Homo sapiens: one gene and its partner. The protein of the gene in region 2 binds, or shares a complex with, the protein of the main gene of each other region. Each region holds a gene or a part of one and is shown on either strand. Other genes may lie near its edges.

Region 1 (10,549 bases), on a different chromosome or scaffold from region 2:
TACTCTGGTATCAACTCATCACAGCTGTCCATGATGAACACACGGCGGACATAGAGTTTGATGTTGTTCTTTTTCTTCTTGTTCTCAAAAAGGTCAAAGGGAGCCCGACGAGGAATAAATAGCAATGCCCTGAATTCCAACTGACCTTCTACAGAAAAGTGCTGAAAGAAACCAAAAATAAGTGGTACATTTCAAAAGAGGACCTTTTAGCCCCAACACCAAATTATCTAAAAGTGGAACAATGATCCTCCCTAAGCCTAAGGGATAGAGCACACACAACAAGCAGCTCCTGAGAAAACTGAGCCTTAATGCCCTCCACGATCTAGATGGGTACTAGCTGTATGTAGAAAACAGTCCCCTCTGATCAGAACCCTGGATGTGTAAGGCTGCCAATAGACATTACCCAGATTTCCATAAGAAGAGAAAGTGAGGTCATTAGAAATGATGGCACTTCACTATGACAGGGTAATCAGTAAGTGAAATCACATGGCTATCACATTTCTGTTATCAGTTGGACAAGTTCCGTGTGTCTATTACCCAACACTCTTCCACCTAACTCATTCCTCTCCATATGTGCATGTTGAGCCAACATGCAAAGGCTTCTCACACCTTGACTGCCAAGTGGTCTTCCCAGTCATTAGTGAGGCTCTTGTAGAATTCTCCATACTCCTCTTGGGTGATGTCATCAGGGTTTCTGGTCCAAATAGGCTTGGTCTTGTTTAGTTCTTCCTGATCAATGTATTTCTCTTTGATCTTCTTAGTTTTCTTCTTCTTATCCTTACCGCTGTCATCCTCCTCATCTGAACCCACATCTTCGATCTTGGGTTTTTCTTCATCATCTTTATCTTCCTCTTCTTTCTCACCTTTCTCTTCCTCTGCCTCATCATCACTAATTTCCTTCTCTCGTTCCTTCTCCAACTAAGTAACAAAAACAGAAGTTAGCCTTGGAGTACAAAACACTACCAGGGAAAGCAAAAGCCAGGGACAATGAGATTCTCCAGAACAGGAAACATCCTGCACGTTAAGTGTAAAAGATTTAAAAGTCCATACTCACATAAAGGGTGATGGGATAGCCTATGAACTGAGAATGCTTCTTCACTACTTCTTTGACCCGCCTCTCTTCTAGGTACTCTGTCTGATCTTCTTTAAGATGGAGGATCACTTTGGTACCCCTGCCAATGGGCTCACCTAGAAGAGTCAATTACAAGCGTGTAACAGGGTAAAAAGTATATGCAGTTGAGACCAGCAATTAGTAAGTATCAGCAGAACTGCTGTGAAGAACTGCTTTACAGACAGGATGCCCAAAATTTCTGCTACTGGTGTGAGCCCAGAAAATCCTAACCCAACTACCTTGTAACAGAAAAGCTAACTTACCATGGTCAGCACGCACAGTGAAGGAACCTCCAGCAGAAGACTCCCAAGCATACTGTTCATCATCGTTGTGCTTTGTGATCACAACCACTTTCTCTGCCACCAAGTAGGCAGAATAAAAGCCAACACCAAACTGCCCAATCATGGAGATGTCTGCACCAGCCTGCCAACAAGTTTAAAGTCAATCACAAGTTTTAAAGAAGCAAAAAACCAAAGAACACAGATAAGTATGAATGCCTACAGAACTGCAATACCTGAAGAGCCTCCATGAATGCTTTAGTACCAGACTTGGCAATGGTTCCCAAATTATTTATGAGATCAGCTTTGGTCATGCCAATGCCTGTGTCTACCAAAGTCAGGGTACGTTCCTGAGGGTTGGGGATGATGTCAATTTTCAGCTCTTTACCACTGTCCAACTTCGAAGGGTCTGTCAGGCTCTCATAGCGAATCTTGTCCAAGGCCTGGAAATACAAACAGCAACTTACTTTTGCTCTTTCCAAGACAGACTCTTGCTCTGTTGCCCAAGCTACAGTGCAGTGGCAAGGATGACAGCTCACTGCAGCCTTGACCTCCCAGGTTCGAGCCATCCTCCCAACCCCAGCTTCCCAAGTAGCTGGGACTACAGGCACATGCCACCGTGCCCAACTAATATTTAATTTTTTGCAGAGACAAGGTCTCGCGGTTGCCCAGGCTGCCCTCGAAATCCTAGGCTCAAGTGATCCTCCTGCCTTGGCATTACAGGTGTGAGCCAACACGCTCAGCCACTTTTGCTTTCTTAAAGCCCGTATCTTCAAAGAAAATCTTGGTTTACCTCTCTCAGCCTCAAATCTGATTGCCCCCTATCTTGAGGCTTTAGAACCAGTTAGTTCCATGAGCCCACTTATTCTGGACATAGTCCCTTCCAAGTTCAAGATGGCCAGAGTAAAACCCATCTTTTTGGAATAGCTGCAAGTTTACCCCCTTCAATAGTAGTCCCCAACAAAGGCCAAACCACTCCTTTCCCCTCCTTCTAGAGTATCAAAAAAAAAAACCATGCCAAATGTGGAAACCAGAGCACCTACATCAGAAGCATTAGAGATCAACTCCCGAAGGAAAATCTCCTTGTTGGAATAGAAGGTATTGATGATGAGGGACATGAGTTGGGCAATTTCTGCCTGAAAGGCAAAAGTCTCCACCTCCTCCTCTCCATGGTGCACTTCCTCAGGCATCTAAAATAAAAATCTCATTAATTACAAAAGAACACTAAGGCCCCATGTTTAAAAATCCTAAAGGTCATATCATTTGTTAGGACCTTAGACAGTGAGTTCAGACTGGTTTAACCGGAGTACTATCCCTTCCCAAGACTAAAAATGCATTCTCTTAAAGATCTCAGACTACACACTAAGTGGGAGGCCTGAAAATTCAGAAGGAAAAAGAAAATAAGCTAAATATTCTTCAACCAAATGTCACAGAACCCACCTACTTAAAGAATGGTGACCAGCAGCCTCAGCATCATCTGGTAGTATGGCAGAAAAATCATAATGTTGGTCCAACCCAGGTATCTAGAGATCCCAAGTAATCCTTACACAAATTTAAATGTGAAAATCACTACCTACAGTTCTTTATTTGGGGGAGATCAAAGTGACTAGTTTAAGATAAAAATGGCACTAACTTTAAACTGCTCCCCCTGAGGTGTCAGTTCCTAAGACCAGTCCAAGGGCGGGACACTCCTGCCCCATAGGGCAGGGAGGAATAACCTGGGATCCATACGATACCCACCGGAGGAGCAATTAAATCCGGACAAAGAATTCTTAAGCCAAAAGCTCCACCACGACCCTTTCACAGCACAAAATTACAGAACAGGACCAAACCCAAGAAAGATGGTGGCCGTAGCCACCAGGCCGACACTCGTCACTGCCGGACATGCGTCGGCCAGGACCACGCGAGGAGGGGGCGCCGCAGTGCACCCTCCCTCGCCCCAGCATCCGGGCACTGGGGCGGGGCGCCAGAATCCAGAAGCTTCCAGAACAATCTCAGCTCTCGAGGAAGGGCGGAGGAAGGAGCCCATGAATCTTCCAGAACCTGCTCCCCTCCCCGCCCCTCCTCCACCGGGACTGCAAGAAAGATCTGGAAGGAGGGAGTATCGGGTGCTGGAGACCGAAAGCTCTCTTCCCACACCGTCAACCCTCCCTCACAGAAACAAAGCACCCAAGAAGGCTTTAACAACGCGTCCGATAAGAGAGGTGACAAAGCCAGTCCCACAAGGCCGTGCTGAGTCACCCGAGCGGGCACCCCCGCCACCCTGCGGTCCCCCTCCGACGCCCCGTAGCCGCGTCCGGAAGTGGAGGGGCAAAAATGGCAGCGTCCCGGGCCGCGCGGCCACCACGTGCAGCTGCCAGCCGCCCACTGCCCCAACCCCACAGCCCACCTCGCTACGGCCAGCAGGCGCCGAGAGAAAGCCCCACCCCCCAAACACACTAGAGAAAACCGAGGAGGACTCAAAAAACCTCACCCACCACTACCCTCACCCTATAAAAATCCAGAGCGTTATCCACAAGCCACCCCGACATCTAGACTAAGGCTCCCTAAAGGACAGAAAAAAACAAAAACAACACGAATACAGCACTAAAGGGAAAGAAGCCTAGCGGAGATCTCAGCCTTACCTTGAAAAGAAAAGGATTATACGTAATAGTGAGCAACGTAGGCTTGCTTTCCGATACCCAGACAGTCCCAACACTGCGCCGGAGTGACTCGAGAGAGCTACTGCGTGCCCCAAGTCGCCCTATATAAGGCGAAGCACAGTACAGCCGCCCTCCTGTAGATCCCTCCGCCTTAAAGGAGTATGATTGTCAACCCCGCACCTGCCGCCACCAGCCCACCTTGACGTCATGGTCCGAAAAAAAGAGGGGGCGGGGAAGAACCCAAGCAACGGATCCGCCCACACATTTGCTTGTGATCACAGCCCCATAGTTTCACGTCTAGGACATGACTCCATCAAGAGCGGGGATGAGGAGTGCTCATTTGGCATAAACGGTGTCTCTACGGGCGAGGAACCCACTGACCTCCCTAAACACTTGTGGGGCAGGCGTCCCCACACCCAAGGGCGGGACTGGGGGGGACACCGAAAAAGAGCGGAGGCAGCTAACCACGCGGACCACCGCTCCCAGACCCAATCTTCTTCCTAGCATCTGCCCTACACATCTCGCGTCCCGACAGAGGGACTGGCATTCGGGACCCAACCTTGGGTAGCCCCAGATCCCGACTCTCGCAGGAGTAGAGGAAGGGCGGAGGGTTCGCGCTGAGGGGCAGCTCAGCGTAGGGGGAGGGCGCCGGCCGGGGCTGGCGGGGACTCTTTGCCGACATGCGGCGGAAGGCGCGGCGGCGGCACTGCGGCATTTCCAGCAGTTTCCAGGCCTGTCTCGGCGGTCCCGCCCCCTCCCCGCGAGGCTCCGCCTCTCCGGCTGCGGCCGGGGCAGGGTTTTTGCAGCGACCCCACCCGGCGACCCGCTCTGACCTGTCCGAGAGACGCGGGTACCAGCCCAATCCTCAGGGATGGGATGGAGGGTTGGGGAGGGATCGGCTGACCCCTCCTTCCCCGCGTCAATCACACAACACCCAGGCACCTGGGGCGGCTCTGCGGGCGTACACTTTTGCAGACTGAGAGTGGAGTACCTGCGGGGGGGACCCCCCTCTAGCCCCTGCGGCCGCCACGTACACGGAGCACGGGGACATGCGCCCTCCCTACGCAGGCACGTCAAGCCCTTTCTCAAGCTGGTTCGCTTTTTTTCCGCCCACTTCGCTCCTGCAGCCATTTGGACCTGGGAAGGAGGGAGTCTCTGGGAACCAGTGCAGGGCAGCCGGAGCTCTTGGAGGCCGCGTGACGATGCCGGCCACAGAGCGGCTGGCCAAGTTGTTCCCCTTCAGCCTTGGCACCAGAGCCCCTAGGCCATGCCCCTGGCCAGTGAGCTGCCGTGTCTGGCCTGGCTCAGCCGTTTTGCCTGCCCTCCAGTTGGCAAGCTGTCCTTGCCTTTCCAAGGCCTCATCCGAAAGCCTGCTGGACCCACAACCCCTCCAGGAGAGAATAGCCACTCCCTGCTCTGTGCCCTGTAGATGTCCATCTGCTCCCCTTCCTGGCCCACCCCTGGGATGCTTGGGAAGAGTTTCCCCACAGCCACCCACATCGTCCTCCCTCACCAGCCCTGTTGTTACCCAGTCTACGATTCGTTAACAAGTTTTGTTCATGTGTTGAATACCAAAGAACAAAGGGTGTCCCTTGCTTTCCTCTTCTTTGTCCCTGTCCACTTCGCCATGCCTGCCATCACCATCCCGATTGGATATCCTTTCTCCCTTTCATTATGGTCTGCAAAAAGCCTATGGCTGGGAGAAGTCTATAAGAAGGGGCGTTGGGTGCTCTATTCCTGACCAAAACCGCAAACCAGTGGGAGCGTGATCCCTTAACGTGTCCTCTCCTTCTAAGCAGAGCTCATTAAAAATCTGCTCCCCAGTTCACAGAGAGCATTCACAAACTCTCACTCTCCTGTGAGCGGATGAAAGTCAGTGTGCACATTCTGTCAACAGGGAAGTGGCTTCAGTGACTCCCAAGGCCCGTCTACTCAGAGTCCTTGCTGCACTAGCTCCCTTTCTGCTCCAGAAATGGAGCAGGGATGTGATCTCACCCCTAGGACCTAAATCCAAAGCAGGAATCACTCCTGTGGATGGGCTTCCCCTGAGCTGGATCCTTTCTGTGTCAAGACTCGACGGCTTCCTGAAGACTTTCTAAATGGGAAAATCTCAAATGTTACACCAGCATAGAAATTCCACTTTCTCTGCTGGGCACAGTGGCTCATACCTGTAATCCCAGCACTTTGGAAGGCCGAGGTGGGTGGATCACCCGAGGTCAGTAGTTCACAACCAGCCTGGCCAACATGGTGAAAAACCTCGTCTCTACTAAAAATTAGCTGGGCGTGGTGGCACATGCCTGTAATCCCAGCTACTTGGGAGGCTGAGGCAGGAAGATTGCTTGAACTCTGGAGGCAGAGGCTGCAGTGAGCTGAGACCATGCCATTGCACTCCAGCCTGGGCAACAAAAGAGAAACTCCGTCTCAAAAAAAAAAAAAAAAAAAAAAGGGGGCTGGGCGCGGTGGCTCATGCCTGTAATTCCAGCACTTTGGGAGGCCGAGTCCAGCGGATCACCAGGTCAGGAGTTCAAGACCAGCCTGGCCACTCTGGTGAAACCTTGTCTCTACTAAAAATACAAAAATTAGCCGGGCGTGGTAGCGCGCCTATAGTCCCCGCTACTTGGGAGGCTGAAGCAGGAGAATCACTTGAACCCGGGCGGCAGAGGTTGCCGTGAGCCGAGATCACGCCACTGCACTCCAGCCTGAGCGACACAGTGAGACTCTGTCTCAAAAAAGAAAAAAAAAAAAGAAATTCCACTTTCTCTTCCAGGAAGCCTTTCAGGAGACCGCCTACCTGTGTCCACAAGCTCCATCGTTTTCCACTCATTGACACTCACTAAGCCTCCACTGTGTGGAGATCCTGGGGATGCAGAGATGCATACACAGGACTGGGAGCCCTTAACCCACTGGAGGCTGCAGCAGCCAAGTGTGAACCATAGGAGGATGGGAGAAGCCGCAGAGGCCCTCAGCTCAGCTTGGGAAAGGGAGCAGTCTTAGGACCATGCCTAGCCAGGCCATGACATGGAAAGCATGGAAAGGAACAGAGCCCCATTAGAGGAACCATAGCTCAGGAACCCCAAAGGGAAGCACAAGGAGTTGAAAGTAGCCCTGCAGATGGGGGTTAGGTCGCAGAGGGCTGCAAATGCCACTGGTAAGAAGTCCTGATCTTAAGAGTGAGAGAAGTGAAGGTTATAAAAGACAGGCTTAAAACTATGTCTTCCAGACTGGGCACGGGTGGCTCACGCCTGTAATCCCAGACCTTTGGGAGGCCAAGGCGGGCGGATCACCTGAGGTCAGGAGTTTTGAGACCAGCCTGACCAACATGGAGAAACCCCGTCTCTACTAAAAATACAAAATTAGCTGGGTGTGGTGGCACATGCCTGTAATTCCAGCTACTCAGGAGGCTGAGGCAGGAGAATCGCTTGAACCCAGGAGGTGGAGGTTGCGGTGAGCCATGATCGCGCTATTGCACTCCAGCCTGGGCAATAAGAGCAAGATTCCGTCTCAGAAAACAAAAACAAAACAAAAAAAAACTACACCGTCCGAAGCCTTATTCCCAGCCTTGGAACCACTGATGTTCCCCAGATCCCTTTTATTCCTCCATGAAACCTCCTAGGCCCAGCCCAACCTTCTGCTGTCGGAGGGTGGCCAGCTAAAGCAGGGATTAACAACCCAAGGTCTGCAGCTGGTGGGCCTGCTGCTTGTTTTTTGAATGGCCTGTGGGCTAAGAAGGGTTTTTACACTTCATAATGGTTGAAAAAAAAATCAAAAGAAAGATATTATTTTGACATGGGAAAATTATATGAAATTTGAATTTCTGTTTTCATGAAGTTTTTTTTTTTTTTTTTTAGACGGAGTCTCACTCGTCTCCCAGGCTGGGGTGCAATGGCAGAATCTCAGCATACTGCGACCTCCACTTCCCGGGTTCAAGCGATTTTCCTGCCTGAGCATCCCAGGTAGCTGGGATTACAGGCGCCCGCCACCACGCCCGGCTAATTTTTGTATTTTTGGTAGAGACCGGGTTTCACCATGTCGGCCAGGCTGGTTTCGAACTCCTGACTTCAGGTGATCTGCCCGCCTCAGACTCCCAAAGTGCTGAGATTACAGTCGTGAGCCACTGCGCCTGGCCAATTTTAATGAAGTTTTGTTGAAACGTAGCCCTTGTCTTTGACTGCTTCTGTAACATAAAGTCAAAATCGATAGGTGTGACAGAGACCATAACGCTTGCAAACCCTAAGACATTTACTCTCTTGCCTTTTACAGAAAACGTTTGCAGACCCCTAAGCTACATAAAGCTCAGCAAAGTCTTGCAGGGAGCACAGAGACTCAGCCTGGACAGAGTCTCTAGGGTTCACAGAGGCCACGGAGGGGAGTTAAATAAAGCTCAGTGAACGAATAAAACAACTGAGGGTAACAGGACATCAGAGATATGAGCATGGAGAGTAGCTGTGGACCCTGAACCCCTAGAACAAGCAGCCTCTTAAGCTCAGTGCCTGCCAGGTGTGTCCCGTTACTTTCTGGGCCTTCCCAGTTCCACGAGCCTTAGCTCTCTGAATTCCTGAGGGAATACCCTGAACTGACACCCTCCAATACTAGTGAGCCTGACATTCAGATGCATTGGACAATTGGGCAGGTCTGCACAGCCAGCATGGACTCCATCTCTTTGCCTCCATTTTCACATTCCACTAGAACACAAGGGAAGTCTCTTGCATAATTTTTGCTCACTGTATTGTTAGTATTGTTATTTTTTTGATGCCATAGAAAATGGAAATTTTTGTTCATTTTCGGTTTCCCAGAGTTCAAAAAGCAATTGAGCAATTGAATTTTTGTTTATTGATTGAGCAAGTTGGTAAGCTAGCTTATTAATTCTTAATTTGACTATAAAAGTTTTGGTGTTTTATAGGTACAACCATATCATCTGAAAACAATGACAGTTTGGTTTCTCCTCTTCTGATTCTTGTATCTCTTATTTCTTGTTTTAATGCACCAGCTAGGACCTGCAGAACAATGATGAGTGGAAATAATGATTCTGGGCATCCCTGTCTGATTCCTAATCAGAAAATGAAAGCTTCTAACATTTCACCATTGAACTTTTTGTTTGTTTGTTTGTTTTTTGAGACAGGGTCCAGGGTCTTGTTCTGTTGCGGGGGCTGAAGTACAGTAATACATAGCTCACTACAGCCTCAACCTCCCAGACTCAGGCGATCCTCCCAGTTCAACCCCCGAAGTAACTGGGACCACCATGCCTGGCTAATTTTTTTATTTTGTAGAGACAGGGTCTCCCTATGTTGCCCAGGCTGGTCTCATCCCAAACTCCTGGGCTCAAGTGATCCTCCCACCTTGGCCTCCCAAAGTGCTGGGAATACAGGCATGAGCCACCCGCACCCAGCTGAACATATTTACTCTTTTTATTCCTAACTTGCTATAAATTAAAAAAAAAAAACAAACACCACCATGTCCAGCTAATTTTTATAATTATCTGTAGAGACAGAGTCTTGTGCTGTTGCCCAGGCTGGTCTCAAACTCCTGGGCTCAAGCAGTCCTTCTGCCTTGGGTTCCCAAAGTGCTGGAATTATAGGCGTGAGGCACCATGCCCAGACTCTTACGATCTTTTCAATTTCTCTTCTATCTAAAGTACGTCTTCTGCCAGGCAAGGTGGCTCACACCTGTAATCCCAGAACTTTGAGAGGCCAAGGTGGGCGGAGGCCAGGAGTTTGAGACCAGCCTGGCCAAAATGGTGAAACCCCTTCTCTACTAAAAATACAAAAATTAGCCAGGCGTGGTGGCAGGCACCTGTAATCCCAGCTACTAGAGAGGCTGAGGCAGGAGGACCCTTGAACCCAGGAGGCGGAGGTTGCAGTGAGCCAAGATCACACCACTGCACTCCAGCCTGGGTGACAGAGTGAGACTCTGTCTCAAATAAATAAATAAATAACATTAAAAAATAAAGTATGTCTTCATTTCTAAAATTGTTTTTCATGTCTTATCTCTTTTTTCTTGTACAATTTCACCAAAGGTTTGCTTATCTTATATTTATATATTTGTTTTTGACTTCTTTAATTTCTGTTTATTTTATTTTATTTTTTTTTGAGACAGAGTCTCGCTCTGTCACCCAGGCTGGAGTGCAGTGATGCGATCTTGGCTCACTGCAACCTCCACCTCCTGGGTTCAAGTGATTCTCCTGCCTCAGCCTCCCTAGTAGCTGGGACAACAGGTGCGTGTGCACGCCACCACACCCTGCTAATTTTTTTGTATTTTTAGTAGAGACAGGGTTTCACCATGTTGGCCAGGGTGGTCTGGAACTCCTGACCTCAAGTGATCCGCCTGCCTCAGCCTCCCAAAGTGCTGGGATTATAAGTGTAAGCCACCGTGCCTTGCCTAGTTCTGTTGTTATTGTTCTATTTTCTTAACTTTAGTACTTAACACATTAGTTTCAGCCTTTCTGTTTTTCCAACATAAAGATTTAAGGCTACAAATTTCTCCTTGTGTACTATGTTTACTATATTCCACAAATTTCCATA
Region 2 (10,166 bases):
AACTCTTGAGGTGTAATTCATATTTCAGCTCAGCATTTGGTGGGATTTGGAACTTTTCCTTCCCAACACTGCCAAAAGCATAGCTGGAGGGGTGAAAAACACTATGTATCATCTTGGCAACACTTAACCTGCTCCAGGCTGAAAAGGCTTCCTGTCCATTTCCTGGAAAGTACCTTCCCATCCCTTGAGACTTGGTTCAAATGTTTGGCAAATCTTCCCTGGCCTCTTCACACTGTCAGATGGTCCCTCAGCATCCTTCATACCCTTCTAATAACTTACAGCCAGGCAGCAGTGTGATTACTAATTTAAATAGCACCTCACTAAACAATGAGCTAGAATTAGAAGGCAGAAACAATGTTCTATTAGTCTCTGAAGCCCTATAGGAATTTTCAGCAGTGCCTGGCATGTAGTAGCTGTTTCAGTAATGACTGAAATGAATTAATGGGAGAGGAAAATCTTGATGGCAGAGGAGAGAATCTGTAGCAACTATGACTGAAAAGACTGGGCTTAGATCCAAGGAGATGTAGACAATTGGGCCATACTTCTAAGTACACTGAGGATATCATAATGGTGTATGTTTGGTGTGGCCAGAGTTAAAAAGGATACAAACAGCTGGTTCTACAATTCATTTTATATCTTTGATCTTGGTTTGCCTGCCTGCCTACCCTACGAAGTGCCCACCCCTCACCTGGGCTTGAGGTACACGATGGAATGTTCTCCTTTCTCCATGCGCTGAATGGCCCTCTCCAGACCATAAGGCAGATCCAGGTTCTCCCCCTCGCCAATCTCAAAGCGGAGCTCCCGCTGGTCAAAGAGCTTGTCCTTGTAGTACCCTTCCAGTGCAACTGGCATGAAAGAGAGGCAGTGTACCAGAGTTGTAAGAGGGCAGGTGACTGAGGAAGGATGCCATCAGCCTCCCTGCATCACCCCCATCATCCCAAGATTCTCCTGTGTTCTCAAATCTGGAGTGATATGAAGAGAATATGGTCCAACCCCTCATTTTATGGACAAGAAGATAGGCTCGGAGAACGGAAGTGTCTTGCCCAAAGCCACACAAGGCCTAAATATCAGAATGAGAATTGAAAGCCCAGACTGTACTGTCTCACCCTCCACGATAGCACCCTCATTGGGCTTAGCATAGCCTTCACCGCGAGTCTGTATTCTGCGAATGATTCCGCCATCTTCCTCTTCCGTCAGATCTTCTCCCTTAAACTCAAACAACTCCACCTGTGGGACAAGATGTGACACAATTCCTTCCCATGCTAACTCATGGGCAGTGAAACACAATCTTTCTCATCCGAGAGAGTCCCTACTAACTGCCAGGCCGGATCTGACCACAAGGGCAGTCACAAGGAGTTGGGTAGAGTGGCACTTTTTTTCAGTTCTTGGGAGCTGCCCTAATCTCAACTTTGGTAGAGGTGGGCAGACTACATAGATTTCAGTTAAGCTGAGGAGAGCAATCTATTTGCTACCTGCTCTACTAACACGGACATATCAGGACGCGTCCCAGATAATCCTAATTCACACTACCTGATAAGCCCAACCTGGTAGGTATTAGAAATGATTACCCAACATCTCTCAGCAGTTTCTCAGTATTCAAGGGCCCACGGATTGGCTCAACCATTTTCAGATTGAACAATGTCAAGTTCTATCTCCTCAGTGAAGCCTTTTCTCAGCCCTTGACCCACAGGGGAGCTACTGCTCCCTCTTCTGGTCTCTAGAGCACCAATATTCTGTACTGCCATTTATAACGGGACATAGTTTCTGACATCCCGACTCCTTTCAGTATTCTTCTGGGTACCGCTCTGGAGATAAAGATGCCTTAACCCTGACCATGCTTTGAGTCTGGAGAGGGGCTTGTGCCTGCCTCTTCCCACCCGAAGCTTCTATTACTTCCATTACTAGCAGCAGCAGAGCCCTCTGCATTTCTCCTCCCATAAGGCCAGACCCTCAGCCTTGGCTACATTGTCTCCAAGAAGCAGGAAGGGCTGGAGGGCAGCCAGGCATTGGGCTGAGATAAGGCCTGGCTCTTAGCCTGGATCTCAGTGACCAAACACTCACCTCAAATACAAGCGTGGCATTGGGGGGAATCTTTGGAGGACTGCCTGCTGAACCGTAGGCATATTCTGGTTTGCAGGTGATGTGGCACACCTCCCCCACCTTCATGGTGGCTATGGCAATGTCCCAAGCCTTGATGACCTCCCCTGCAGGTACAGAAGCAAACAGGACCGCCTTAGCAGGGTTCTGATTCTGGGCTCAAACAGTGCTCCTGAAGAGTTACTGCACCACACTCATGGGGAAGCTGGACATCCTTTAGAAATGGGACCAGAAGGTGAGGTACCTGGTTGTATTAAGTGCTACCAGGTCTAAGAACTGTAAAAGATCACGTGACCCTGAACAAAAGAGTTTAAGATGCAAGACAGTCCACCTTTGAAGGGGGAGTAAGGTGTTGGGAGGTGATGAGGAGAAGGGGAGACAGAGATCAATATAGTTACAGAACGGTAGAAAAAAAAAAAAAAGAGTGACCGAAAGAGTTAACAGACTGTGATAAACCATTCCTCCCTGAGCTTGGTCCTGAGAAAATGGTTTCTGCTTGTGACAGCTTGTGTCCACCTCGAACCTATCCTACCAGCCCACTGACCACGCCTACCTTTTCCCAGGTCAAAGGAGAATTTGTCCTTGCGATCCAGACTGGAGTCAAACTTTGTGCCATCTAATAGCCAGCCAGTGTAGTGGACAAAGACTCGGTCCCCAATCATGGGCATCTCTGTACCTGTGCCCTCTCTCTTGATGACCTGGGAGGAAGGGGGAGAAAGTGAGTACCCCAGGGTTTGGGGCAGAAAGGGGCACCAGCACTGCCTGCAAGCCTCCAGAGGGAACATAAAGGGACTTCTCTGTGTTCATCCTCCTCTGCCTACTTGTCCCTCCAGATTCAGTTACTAGCAGCTTGGCTTATGAGTCAACTAACCTTCTTGTCTTTCTTGAGGTGCAGCAAGACTTGGTTTGAAAAAGGAGACAAAAGGCTGAGAGATCTGAGTTCAAGTTTCCGCTGTATGGTAAGTTTTTAAAATTCTCCACACTTTATTTGTAAAGCAGTGATGATAATCCCTATCTCCTACAGTTGTTGGAAGATTAGACCAGTAAAAGGTTGAATAATAGATTATTATTATAATCGGCAAAGGGGGAAGTATTTATGCCACACTTCCTCCTTCTTCCTTCATGCCAGTGGTCGTCAGACTAAGGTCTGGTTTGGAGACAGGAGAGCGAGAGGAGTATGAGTGAAGAGAATAGAAACAGTTCAAAACAGGTAAGGAAGAAACCAGGTTATAGGTGAACCCGGAGGCTCTCCATGGGACCTTAAACTCTGACTTGGGAGCTGAGTATTCCTCTGGTAGTTAGTCCAGGGCTGGAGTATTTCCCAGAAACGTAAAGGCTTCTTTAGCGCCACCTGGTAGGTGTGTGGTTACCCTCCAAGGGAAAGCTTCCACGAAGAATAGACAGGGGCTTTGAGGAGTAGAAAGGTAAAAGGGAAGGAATGATGGATCAAAGGGGAAATGAGCTTTCCTGGAATAACAATCTCGTAGAAAACGGCAGGACGCTGGAGCGAGAAGGGGAAGTCACATGCCACAGGAGAGCCGCTGGAGCAGACGCTTGAGGTCCCCAATAATCTGGTGCAAAGACAGATGCACTTCTGGACCAGGTAAAGGCCCCCTGAGGTGGGTGCCGCACACGCGGAGCTCAGCGGTGGGAAGCCAGGATGAGGACGCAGCAGCGGATGGGGAGAAGGCATAAGACGCAGGCTGGGAATTCACCATCTCTGATTCTCCCTGGAACCTGCTCCGACCCAAGGCAGGTTGTCCTGGCCCAGGTCAAGATGCCCTCCCCGCAGCTCCCCAGGCTATTTGTAGTCGAGCGGTCACTCGGCGGCAGGCTCCACAGCAGAGCGCCTCCTCCCCGCCCCACACCCCGCAGCCCTGGCTCCGGGAGGCGGCGGAGGGGGGAGGGGACTACAGCTCCCGGCATGCCCCGCGCCCGGCCTCCCCGGGGCCGAGGGAGGGGGCGCCGCGCGGCGAGTGGGGACCTCGCTGGGTCCCGGCGTCGGCAGGGGACCCCGGGAGGGCGCCGGAACCCTGTCGCGCCTGCGTCGCACAAAGGCCGAAGGGCCAGGAAAGCACTGTGGGGAGTCGCTCCCCGTCCTGGCCCGTGTTCCACCGCCCGGGTGGGCGAGCCCTGGCACCGCCACCAACGAGGCGGCCCGCGGCTGGCAGCTCCGCTGGGGCCGCGAGGTCGGGGGCGGCGTGGCGTGGGAGGCCCGGCCTGGCCCCGGGCTGCGGCTCGGGTGCCCGCGGCGGTCGCCTCGCCCCGCCCCTCTCCGCCGCCCCGCGCGCGCCGGGGTGGGCACTGCAATCCCGACCCCCTGCCCGGGCCCGGGCGCTGCCGGCTGGGGAGCCTGGGGCCTCGGCCCGCGCACCTAGGCCGCCCCCCTGCCGAGCGCATGGCCGGCCTCGGTGCCTTAAACGACGCAGCCCGGTCCGGGACGGCGATGCCACCGGCCCCCGGCGGGACGGCCGCGAGGCTGCAAAGGCGGCCGCCTCGACCCGTGCCCGGCCGCGGGCTCCGGGCGCGGCGGAAGGGCGGCCCGCGGGGCCCCGGGTTCCGACGCCTCCGCAGGCCCCGCCGCCCCTCACCTTCAGCACGCCTTCGTCCTGTTTGGGGCTGATGTCCACTCCCTCCATGGGCAGCGGCGCCGACTGCGCCCCGCTCTCGGTCGCCTTCATCTCCTCGGCTGTCATCTCCGCGCGGCGCGCCGTTTATCCGGGAGCTGGTGCCGGCGCGAGCGCACTCTGGGCCGCGGGCGGGGGCGCTACCTGCGGGGCGTGCGGGAGGCCGGGCGCGGCGGCACTGACTGCGGACCGCGAGGAGGCTTGAGCACCTCTGCACGCGGCGCGAGAGCTGGGGTAGGTGGGTCAGGAGCGGCTCGGGGAGCGATTGGTCCCGCCCCGCCGCGAGGGAGGGGCTGGGAGGAGCGGGAGCGCAGACAGAGGGGGCGGGGTGCAGAACTTTCTAGAGACGGCGGGACTGAGCCGGTTCGGGCTCAGTGCTGCGGGCGCTTCGGAATTTTTTTTTCTTTTTTTTTTTTTGGTTCTTGCCTCCTTCTGGCTGCCTGCCCCCTCCCCCTTCTCCTGGGACCCTCGGACTCGGGATCTCCCCGGCGGCCTCCCTTGGCCCTTCCTCCCTCCCTCCCATCCCCGCCCGCTTCCCTGTCTAACCGGATTCTTCCAGATTCTTCTCGATCGATCTCCCGACATCACTCCACCAGTCCGCTGCGCCTGCGGCGGGGTGTGGGGAGCGCAGGCTGCGGGATGGCAGTGGCGGCGCCCCCTCCCCGGGACCGGCCGTCACCACGGGCGGCGTGGCCTCTCTGCTATGACCCGCGTAGACCCTTCCCTACTTGGGGGAAAGAGGGCAAGGGCGTGCGCGGGGAGCGGGGAGTGAGTGGACAGCGCTGCCCCGCTGCAGAGAGCCGGGGAAAGCGACCTCGATTTCCCCAGATCCGAGAAGCCCCGGCCAGGCAGCGATGCCTCGCTCAGCGCCTGCAGATGCTGCGAGCAGCGGGGTTGGCAAGGCATGGCCCGCCCAGCTCGGAACTCAGATGGGGCACACACTCAGGGGACCCTTCCCGGCGGTAATAAAACTGCCGTTTCCGCGAATGCTTACAAAGATGGGTTCCCCTCACGAAAAAAGTCACTCGGTTTTCCTAAAGGCCCACAGAAGGAGTATTTTCTTCTCAATGTTTGCTTCCCGAGTGTTTTTCGACAGGCTGTGGAGCGCGCAGGTGCCGGTGTCACCTAAGCTATGGTCGTGGGACCTAGAGAGCCATCTAGAGAGGGGCCTGGTTTTGCTCAGCACCTAACCCCAGTTTAGCATAGTGCCTGGTGAGTGATGTCCCAATAGTTACTGGCTGCATGAATTTTCCTTTTTTAAATTTCTTTTTCCAAGTCTTGGCTGATTTTTTTTTCTTTTTTTTTTTTTTTTGAGACAGGGTCTTGCTCTGTCGCCCAGGCTGCAGTGCGGTGGTGCGATCTTGGCTCTCTGTAGCCGGGACTACAGGCGTCCGCCACCACGCCGACTAATTTTTGTATTTTTAGTAGAGACGGGGTTTCGCCATGTTGCCCAGGCTGGTCTCGAACATCTGGTCTCAAATGATCCGCCCGCCTCGGCCTCCCAAAGTTCTCGGATTACAGGCGTGAGCCACTGCGCCCAGCCTGAATTTTTATTCCAATAATAACTGTATTTTTGGACTTCCCGTTATGTGCCCGGCACTGTGCGATTGGACGCCATTAGTCTCATCAAACTAAATTGAAAGCTTTTTAGAGATGAACTTTCAGCGTCATAATGTGATGATTTATTGTAGTCCCTGCCGACGGAACTTGAAAGGGATGCAGAAGAAAAAGCCCTTCGCTTCAGCAATTTACAGCCCAAATGAGTTGAGCCATAATGAAGACGTCTCTTTAGGTGGCTGGAGACAGCTTCAGAGGATACGGGGCGCTGCCTCTGTAGGGGTTAAATCCACTACTTTTATGCAGAAGTAACAGTGCCAGGGGTCACCCAAACTCCGGGAGACCAGGATGGTGGGTGCTGGCTTCCGGGGTGGCAGTTTACCGCAAACTGTCCTTGGCTTGCACCTACTGATTCTCCACGTGTGGCGGTTTCTTTTCTGCGTCTTTTTCTTCATCGGAAGCGGACAGTGTGGGACCCCCCCTTTAATTCTGTTCGGCACGTACATAGTGGAGCCCTTCAGATTGCCTGCCGTTACATTAACACATAGCCTAATACCCTAGTGGAATGAGCATGTGCTTTGGAGTAAGGGACGTTGGGCGGCCCATGTGTTATGTTAGCTGTTTAAATTGGGGCAGGTTAGTTAATCTTCATGTCTCGATTTCTTGTCTGTAAAATAGAGATAGTAACATTTGTAAAAGAGGGTGATTTAATGGTTAAAAAAGCGGGAATCTGTGTATGGTATCTAGCTCAGTCCTCGCCTCCAACTCCGCAGCTGGTAAATAACGGTCGTTTTAGTGTGATCTGATAGGCGCTGCAGTGGAGATGGGGACAAAGGGCTAAGAAAACAGAGGTCTGTGAGACAGGGAAGGGCAAGAGGGCAAGGTTCCCGGTGAGAAGCTCTGTCCCCACACAGTGAAGGAGGAAACTAGGGGACCACAGGCAGAAACTAGGAGAAACCACAGGAGGAAACTAGGGGTCTTGAATCCTGGAGCAGGAACTTACTGTTTCTCTTAGAATATTTCCTGGTCGTTTATGTGATATTTTTCTGATCATAAAAAGTACATATACTGTAGAAAGTGTGCACGTGTTTTAGTCTCTTTCCTCTATCTCCTCACCCTTTCCCCAGGCCATTTAAGTTAGTATTCTCATTAAAGATGTGTAACCGGTACCACTCGAAATTCTTCCAAAATGTCCCCTTTTTTTGCGGGAGGAAGTCAGCACACTTTTTCTCATCCACCTTATCTGTAGGTGACTCCTGCTGGGATCAGAAACTTTGTTTTCGTCACACTGAGCCTCTTAGAGCTGACCTGGCTCAGATCCCAAACTCTGGGCCCATCATTTACACATGAAGACCCCTTGTTTCTACAGTTCATATCTTGACCTTCCTAGGCTGCCAATGCACTTAACATCCAAATAATTGTATGATATTTGGATCGTTCAAAAGACTGAAATGCATATAGGTGTGTGTGTTCATGTATGCATACATGTTATGCAGTATACCAGTACAATGAAAGCTGGAAATCTGTCACCCAGCCTAAGTTAGAATGTTCCCAGTATAATTTGTCAAAAATGTAATGCCAAAAAAAAAAAAAGCCGTTAAAGACCTTTACATATTTTCTTGTTAACTTTGGTGTCTGTTGATTGAGAAAATAGAAACTCTACTGACCAAAAAATACATATTTCTTTCTTTCTTTTTTTTTTTTTTTTTTTTTTGAGACGGAGTCTCGCTCTGTTGCCCAGGCCGGACTGCAGTGGCGTGATCTCTGCTCACTGCAAGCTCCGCCTCCCGGGTTCATGCCATTCTCCTGCCTCAGCCTCCCAAGCAACTGGGACTACAGTTGCCCACCACCATGCTCGGCTAAATTTTTGTATTTTTAGTAGAGACGGGGTTTCACCGTGTTAGCCAAGATGGTCTCCATCTCCTGACCTCGTGATCCACCTGCCTCGGCCTCCCAAAGTGCTGGGATTACAGGCGTGAGCCACCGTGCCCGGCCTCTACATACTTCTTAAAACATTTATTTATGTTAGTGATTTTAGTCCCATTTTCATACAATTTAAAAATAGTAGGCCCCTATGTGAGGCCTGTGCATAGTGAAGACCTGCGTGAAGGTTAAGCTCATGGGCTCTGGATTGGATTCTCCTGGATTCCAATTCCAGCACAAGCTCTTTACCTGGATTCAAATCTCAGCTTCATCATTGAACTCACCGTGTGAGTCCTGGAGGAAGGTTTCCTTGTCCCTAAAATGGCTGTCATGATAATGCCTTTCTCTCAGGGGTTTTCTCTGAAGATTAAATGGGTTATTTATTTTTTGGAGACAGGGTCACACGCTGTCGCCCAGGTTGGAATGCAGTCGTGCATCACAGCTCACTGCAGACTCCGCCTCCCAGGCTGAAGCAAATCCTTCCACCTCAGCCTCTGGAATAGCTGGGACTACACAGGCACAGACCACCATGCCTGGCTAACTTAAAAAAATTTTTTTTGTAGAGATGGGATCGCCCTGTATTGCCCAGGCTGGTCTTGAACTCCTGAACTCAAGTGATCCTCCTTGGTCTCCCAAAGTGCTGGGATTACAGGTGTGAGCCACTGAGACTGGCAATGGGATATTACATGTGAAGTACCTGAACTTGTATATGGTACACAGGGCGTAGGTGAGTGGTAGTGTGTGTGCCACATTTCAGCCTGTTGATTGCTGGAATATGCAGTTGTGTTTTTTGTTTGTTTGAGACAGGCTCTCGAGCTCTGTCACCCAGGCTGGAGTGCAGTGGCGTGAACATGGCTCACTGCAGCCTCAATCTCCCGAGCTCAAGCAATCCTCCTACCTCAGTCCCCCAAGTAGCTGGGACTACGGGTACATGCCACCACACCCAGTAATTTTATTTTTTGTAGAGACGGGGTCTCACTATGTTGCCCAGGGTGGTTTCGAACTCCTGAGCTCAGGTGATCTGCCCGCCTCAGCCTCCCAAAGTATTGGGGTTACAGACATGAGCCACAGGACCCGGGCCTTGGAATACGCAGTTGAAGATGTGGAAGACTCCAGCCCTGAAGTTGAAAGCCACTGGTCTAGATAAGGCTTTGCTCCATTAGTTCCAGAGGAGTGCTTCTCTTCTAATGTTAAATTACATCTGTGCTTTATGCACCTGGACACTTGACTATGAACTTGACTATCTCATGTAACTCACAGTAGCTTCACCTGCTGATATTCTGTCATTCCAACAAGACTGAAAGCCCCTTAAAGGTAGACTTGGTGTCAACACTTCCATGAATCCCACCATTAGCTGATCTCCTTGAGAGGAGGTAATGGGATATTTGGTGGTTGTCCTGCTGAAACAAAGCTTGTTTCCTTTTATAAAATCTAATTTCTTCCTTCTGATAAATACGCATATTTCTGTTTTGCTCTTGGGGAGATAGGAAGTAGCAAATCTTCATCCTACTGTATCTGTGGATGCACTGAAATTTGGCTTTGGCCTGGATCTTCAGAGGGTCAAATAGCCAAAGGTTGATTTCAGCATTATTTCTGTCTTCCTTGAACTTGTGTGTGATCAAGGATCACGTGGCCGGGTGCAGTGGCTCATGCCTGTAATCTCAGCACCTTGGGAGGCTGAGGCAGGAGGATTGCTAGAGGCCAGGAATTCAAGACCATCCTGGGCAACATAGTGAGACCCTGTCTCTACCAAAAACTAAACACAAAATTTTACATATGAAAAAGCATCATGTATGTGTCTAGGTTATTATCATATCTAATTAGCATAACTAGGACATGGATTGCCACTTGGGAAAAATAGTCTGAACGTCCATCATCCTCAGTTGAAAGTAAATGTATATTTAATATCATAAATGTGCACTGCAGTGATCACAAGAGCAATCCAGCAGCTGTCATTATTGA

The links.
Region 1: the proteins of FKBP4 (region 2) and HSP90AB1 are in contact, whole or in part, in a crystal structure (PDB 1QZ2), measured with the Homo sapiens proteins. Residues at the interface, in NP_002005.1 of Homo sapiens: Lys282, Asn324, Met327, Lys354, Arg358, Lys387; in NP_001258898.1 of Homo sapiens: Met720, Glu721, Glu722, Asp724.

The regions. Positions count from the first base shown.
Region 1 is NC_000006.12:44,240,660-44,251,208, reverse strand, and holds the start of HSP90AB1 (heat shock protein HSP 90-beta), read right to left. Parts: upstream 4,109-10,549; 5' UTR 4,014-4,108; intron 3,267-4,013; exon of another isoform or gene 3,130-3,266; intron 2,593-3,129; exon of another isoform or gene 2,580-2,592; coding exon 2,433-2,579; intron 1,833-2,432; coding exon 1,626-1,832; intron 1,535-1,625; coding exon 1,375-1,534; intron 1,189-1,374; coding exon 1,055-1,188; intron 919-1,054; coding exon 610-918; intron 162-609; coding exon 1-161. UniProt on the Homo sapiens protein: Molecular chaperone that promotes the maturation, structural maintenance and proper regulation of specific target proteins involved for instance in cell cycle control and signal transduction. Undergoes a functional cycle linked to its ATPase activity.
Region 2 is NC_000012.12:2,789,767-2,799,932, reverse strand, and holds the start of FKBP4 (peptidyl-prolyl cis-trans isomerase FKBP4), read right to left. Parts: upstream 4,964-10,166; 5' UTR 4,794-4,963; coding exon 4,689-4,793; intron 3,993-4,688; exon of another isoform or gene 3,565-3,992; intron 3,057-3,564; exon of another isoform or gene 2,987-3,056; intron 2,796-2,986; coding exon 2,651-2,795; intron 2,205-2,650; coding exon 2,062-2,204; intron 1,228-2,061; coding exon 1,107-1,227; intron 846-1,106; coding exon 689-845; intron 84-688; coding exon 1-83. UniProt on the Homo sapiens protein: Immunophilin protein with PPIase and co-chaperone activities. Component of steroid receptors heterocomplexes through interaction with heat-shock protein 90 (HSP90).